2 separate regions of the Homo sapiens genome follow, and region 2 is linked to region 1. The links come from fine-mapping of genetic effects on gene expression. A gene starts in region 1. The other region holds a variant in brackets. All regions are shown on one strand. Distances are between the middles of the regions.

What was found. PIP is the estimated chance that this variant, and not a neighbour inherited with it, causes the effect.
Region 2: its variant is fine-mapped to the expression of ELK4 in fibroblasts (GTEx, PIP 0.99).

The regions. Positions count from the first base shown.
Region 1 is chr1:205,630,466-205,633,372 of GRCh38, forward strand. ELK4 (ETS transcription factor ELK4) reads right to left here and starts at 1,546. Exons shown (of 5, transcript NM_001973.4): 1 at 1,167-1,546. RefSeq lists enhancers at 594-1,013, 1,624-1,933 and silencers at 1,024-1,213, 1,304-1,453.
Region 2 is chr1:205,604,793-205,607,699 of GRCh38, forward strand. No RefSeq gene overlaps it. Among named protein-coding and RNA genes, the nearest start is that of ELK4, 26 kb to the right of the region's middle. The variant T/C (reference allele first, on the strand shown) is at 1,135.

The sequences.
Region 1 (2,907 bases):
ACACAAAGTCTCCAAATTTTCTTCAGCCTGCTACTTAAAAAACCAAGTTATGAATGTATCAAGCCTAGTTTCGAATCAAAATACTCACCGTTGTCAAAAAGTAACCAAAAGTAACATGACGTTTTTAACTACACAGGCTCCTAAAAAATACTCTTTGTATAGGATCCTGCACAGTTCTTACAATATTCTTACAATAAAACTTAAAGACACTACCTCACTAGGAATGAACAGATTCCACTTACGCAGTTTTAATGTTTAAGTAAAATCAAAGAGAAGAGTGTTCCTGAAGGGAAAATATTGAATCATACTACATTTTAATGAAAACACCGCTGCCAAACCTAAATATTGAAGCACCAAGTTTTCCAAGCCAGGGGGTGTAGGGGGTGGGAAAAGACGACAGAGGATCTGATCTATCAACCAAAGAGATGGACAAACCATTCTGATGAGGCATAGAACTCCAGAATCTTTATTTAAATTCCCCAAATTTCAAATAGCAATAGCTGGAGAAAAAGTGAAGTGTGTACTTTTGACTACTTCAGTCAACAACATCCCTATTTCCTTCCAAGGCCAGTTACTATCCCGCCCCGAAAGATGTTTCCAATTGATCTTCCCAGGAATGAAGTTACCAGCCTCGATGCAGCTGTGCACAAGGCGGAAAGTAAAGAGGGGCGGGGGGCCGCTGGAGCGAAAGAGAAAAAGAAATGAAACTCGACACCGGATGACTAGCGAGCTAGGGGAGAGGAAGAAACGCGGACGGCCGCGTGTGCCCTACAGGAGATCAAAGTCTGGGGGAAGAGGTGCAACCTCACCGGGCCTTGGTAAGCACTGAATTACTGTACTTTCATTTTCCAACTTCCTGTCACTACAGAAAATGAGAATTGCTCCCCTCCTCCCCATCCACGCCGAAAAAATCGCCGCCACCTTTCGCCCACGAGACTTCGGGGGACCAAGAGGCGACGAGAGCTGAGCGGTGCGCTGCGGCGTCCACCTGTGCGCCGCGGTGCCCGGCGGGCCGGGGGCGGACCCAAGGGGAGCGCGCGCGCCCGGCCCCGGCCCCCGCCCCCACTTCCTGTTGTGCCGCGCGCCCCTCGGCCCCCGCCCCCGCTCCCGGCCGGTGGGGCTGTGGCCGCGAGATCCCGAGGGGGCGCGCGGGGCTGACCGCTCACCGACGCCGCGCGCGGGGCTCCCCCTCGGTCTCCGCCTCGAACACGATGCGCCTCTCCGCCCTCAGCCTCCTCCTCACGCTGGAAACTCGAGGACGGCGCGGCAGCCGCTGCGACCCCCGCGGCGGAGCCGTAGAAGGCGGCGGCGGCCAAGCCGAGCCCGCCGGGTGCCCGCAGCCGCCCGCATCTCCCGCCGCCGCGGCTCCTGGCGCCCCGCCCTCCCCGCCCCCGCACGCGGCAGCGGCGGCGCGGGTCTTGGGGCCGCTACACGCCGGGCGCGCGCGTTCGGGGCGTTCCTTGCAGCGGCGGGGCCTGCCAGGCCCTCCGCGGCCGCCGCCACTCTCAAACCCCCCGACTGCTCCTGGGTCCCTCCCAGACGCCGTAGTCGCTACACGTCACTTCCGGGGGAGGGGCTGCGACCCTAAGGGGTGTCGTGAGCCGCGTCTGCCAGCAAACCCGGGTTTGGTGTGGCCGGGGGATGTAGCTCGGGCGCCTCCTGGAGTCGTCTCGCCGCTCTCCGTCGCGTTCGGTGCGGTTGCTTCCAGGTCCCTGAGGCGCCCGTCCGGAACCCGCCAGGACCCAAGCTGCCGCCTGGGCCGGGACCTCGGACTCCTCAAAGGCGCGCCACTTTCTCCTCGGTTGGAGGGAAGAGGTGGCGCTCGCAGAGCAACCTGCGGGGGACCACTTCTGTTGGTGCTAAGCTTTGGGGAGAGTCTCCTCCCTCCTGTGTCCCTCGTCCTCCTTACCACTCGCTGTTAGAAGTTGGGGCCGTCACAGCTTTCTCATCGAAGTGCCAGATCCCAGGACACTACAAACGCTTGATAAATACTAAATTAGCACTGTGGCTTTCTAGCCTGGGGACTGACAAATGGAAGCGCTGGAGTCGTGGGAAAAGCTTGCCCTGACGATGGAGGCAGCGACCAGAAATCCATTCGTGGCTCTACCCCTCACTAACTCACCAATTTTAAGCAACCTTAACCTCTCTAAAACAGTCATCATTTATAAGGTGGAGAGAACCCAATCTTAGAGTTGTTGTAATGATTAAAGAAAATAAGGTGCATGAAACACCTAGCAAGAGTTTCTAGCTTAGAGGTTCTCATTAAGTAAAATTCTTAAGGAATCAGGTCACACTTGATACAAGAGGCTACTTGAGCAGTTTAGCACCAGAAGGAATGTAAAGTCATAAATTAGGACAGCTGAACAAAACCTCCAAGAAATAAATTAGGTGTTTGTTTAACAAGAAACCAAAGAGAGGTCAGTGTCTGAGTTACTGGTTATTCGAGGCCATTTACTAGCTGTGTGACCTGTAGTGAGTTGCTTAACCTTTCTGGACCTCAGTTTCCTCATGTAAAATGACGATAATGAGCAGCATTGCTGAGAGGATTAAATGAAGTATAGAGCATAATGTACTTAGTGCATTACCTAGCACATAGTAGATACCCAGTAAATCGTGGTGTCATTTATTTTTGCCCCCACAATTGAATGTATAGTTAATTGAACTCACTGAGTGAAATGTGATTCTGTCATCCTTTTGTAGGCTTTTGGAAGAGAATCATCACTTCCTTGATTTCCAGCCTCCTCTTCCATAATACAGAGTAATTATAATCCACAAAGGTAGCTATTCCTGTAAAAACAACTCTACCAAAAGATGTTACCTTTCCAAAATTAGTTTTACCAAAGCATGCAAACATATTAAGACATGTTTTATAAGGAACATGCAGTATCTGAAAAGCACTAGCAGTCT
Region 2 (2,907 bases), 26 kb before region 1:
CTGGGAGGCAGAGGTTGCAGTGAAGTGAGATCACGCCACTGCACACCAGCCTGGGTGACAAGAGTGAAACTCCGTCTCAAAAAAACAAACAAAAAAGAATCAACGATGACCTGAAGGAATCTGACCTAAGTAACTGGGTACATGATGAAGCCATTTAACTCTGGAAGGCCATGGGGAGACATTCTGAGTTCTATTTTGGACATGATCATCTTATGATGCAATCTTGGATGTCAAGAAGGCTGTTAGATATAGAAGTCTAGAGTTTAAAAGAGAAGTCAAAGCTGAAGATACAAATTTTGTGGTCACATAAAGAAGTATTTAAAGTCATAGGACTAAAATGACACAAGCTAGGGAATGAATGTAGAGATGGACAGATTGAGCCCTGGGATTCTTCAACATCTAGAGTTTTAGAAAAAGAACAAGTCCCAGCAGCGCACATGAGAAAAGCCAGAGAAATAGGAAGTTCAGGAGAAAATGTGGTTTCCTGGAGGGCACATGAAGTGCATCTCAAGAAGGAGTTAAGTAATCAGTGCTGCCAAGAGGTCCAATGAACACCGAATGTCAACCACCAGATGTGGCAACATGTAAGGCAATATGACCTTGACCAAAGAAGATAGTTTTGGTTAATTATGGTGACATATTCAAAACATATGGTGGTGGCTCATGCCTGTAATCTCAGTGCTTTGGGAAGCCAAGGTGGGAGGATCATTTGAGCCCTGAAGTTTGAGGCTGCAGTGAGCCATGACTGTGCCACTGCACTTCAGACTGGGTGACAGCACGGTTGACCCCAAAACAAAACAAAAAACATGGGAACCATCCAATGGACTCCTTAACACCAATGCTTGTCAGCTGACTGGCACAGCTGTTTGAGTTTGCGCTTTTTTTTTTTTTTTTGAGACGGAGTTTCACTCTCATTGCCCAGGCTGGAGTGCAATGGCGTGATCTTGGCTCACTGCAACCTCCGCCTCCCGGGTTCAAGCGATTCTCCTGTTTCAGCCTCCCTAGTAGCTGGGATTACAGGCACGCGCCACCACACCCAGCTAATTTTGTATTTTTAGTAGAGACAGGGTTTCACCTGTTGGTCAGGCTAGTCTCTAACTCCTGACCTCCGGTGATCTACCTGCCTCAGCCTCC[T/C]AAAGTGCTGGGATTACAGGCGTGAGCCACTGCGCCCGGCCCACTCCTGTTTCATTTAATAAAATGAAGTCACTTTCATAGACTCCCTGCAGTTACAGGGGGTCGGTCGTCCAGTTAGTACAGTGTTTTGTAGCAACAATCAATGTGAAATCATCTAACTGTTAATTATTATCTCCTACCTGATAATGCCAACCCTGGAAAATTACCCAATATTAGGGTATTAGTTTGTCATTAAACGCACCTATAAAACACAGAAAGTGCTTGCAAAACAGGTAGGCTTCTCAAAATAAGTGTCAACAGTCAGAAAGGTTAGAAAACGGTGGTGACTTAAACAGGCTTTTTTTTGTTTGAGATGGAGTCTCGCTCTATCGCCCAGGCTGGAGTGCAGTGCCATGATCTCAGCTCACTGCAAGCTCCACCTCCTGGGTTCACGCCATTCTCCTGCCTCAGCCTCCCAAGCAGCTGGGACTCCAGGCGCCCGCCACCACGCCCAGCTAATTTTTTGTATTTTTAGTAGAGACGGGGTTTCACCGTGTTAGCCAGGATGGTCTCGATCTCCTGATCTCGTGATCCACCTGCCTCGGCCTCCCAAAGTGCTGGGATTACAGGCATAAGCCACCACGCCCAGCCTAAACAGGCTTTTTAACTGAAGGACTTGGCACTTTTCATATTCTGAAATTTCCTTTTGAATTTCCGTGAAGAACCCATTTCCCAAACTGATTTTACCTCGTGGGACTACCGTCGCAGTTGATACTCTGAGAGCAGTGTGTTAGGAGCATGCAGTAGTCCTCACTGTGCTCCACATGCTGACTGACCCACCAACCAAAGTGACATTTCACCCATTTCACCAGGGTAGTGAACTGCCCCCTTTGCCCCAGAACAATCTGTCACTCTATCCTCCTGTGATTTTCATTAAGAGATACGAAAACAGCTCTCTGCTGTCATTTTGCCACCTATAAACCCCACTTTTGGGCTGGTTACAGTGGCTCATGCCTGTAATCCCAGCACTTTGCGAGGCCAAAGCGGGCGGACCACCTGAGGTCAGGAGTTCCAGACCAGCCTGACCAACACGGAGAAAACCCGTCTCTACTAAAAATACAAAATTAGCCGGGTGTGGTGGCGCATGCCTGTAATCCCAGCTACTCGGGAGGCTGAGGCAGGAGAATCGCTTCAACCCAGGAGGCAGAGGTCGCAGTGAGCCGAGATCGCACCATTGCACTCCAGCCTGGGCAACAAGAGCAAAACTCTGTCTCAAAACAAAACAACCCACTTTCCCTTATGTATATTATTTTGACCCAATTCTAAAAAAGCCTAATTTCATTTGCTAAGTGAAGTCTACATTGCTTTTTACAAGGGCTAGATAAAAGCCTCTGATTTTTTTTTCTTTTTTTTTGAGATAGGATCTTGCTCTGTCACCCATGATCACACCAGTGCAGTGGTGTGATCTCAGCTCACTGCAACCTCTGCCTCCCGGATTCAAGCGATTCTTCTGCTTCAGCCTCCCGAGTAGCTGGGACTACAGGCACACCCCACCACGTCCAGCTAATTTTGGGAGGATTTTTAGTAGAAACAGGGTTTCACCATGTTGGCCAGGCTGGTCTCAAACTCCTGACCTCAGGTGATCCACCTGCCTTGGCTTCCCAAAGTGCTGGCATTACAGGTGTGAGCCACTGCACCCAGCTGATTAAATTTTTAAAAACCCTTTATTTTTCAAGTAAAACAAAAAGAGATTTCACATGGTGAATATTTTTTCTAGCCACTCAGTTCTCTCTT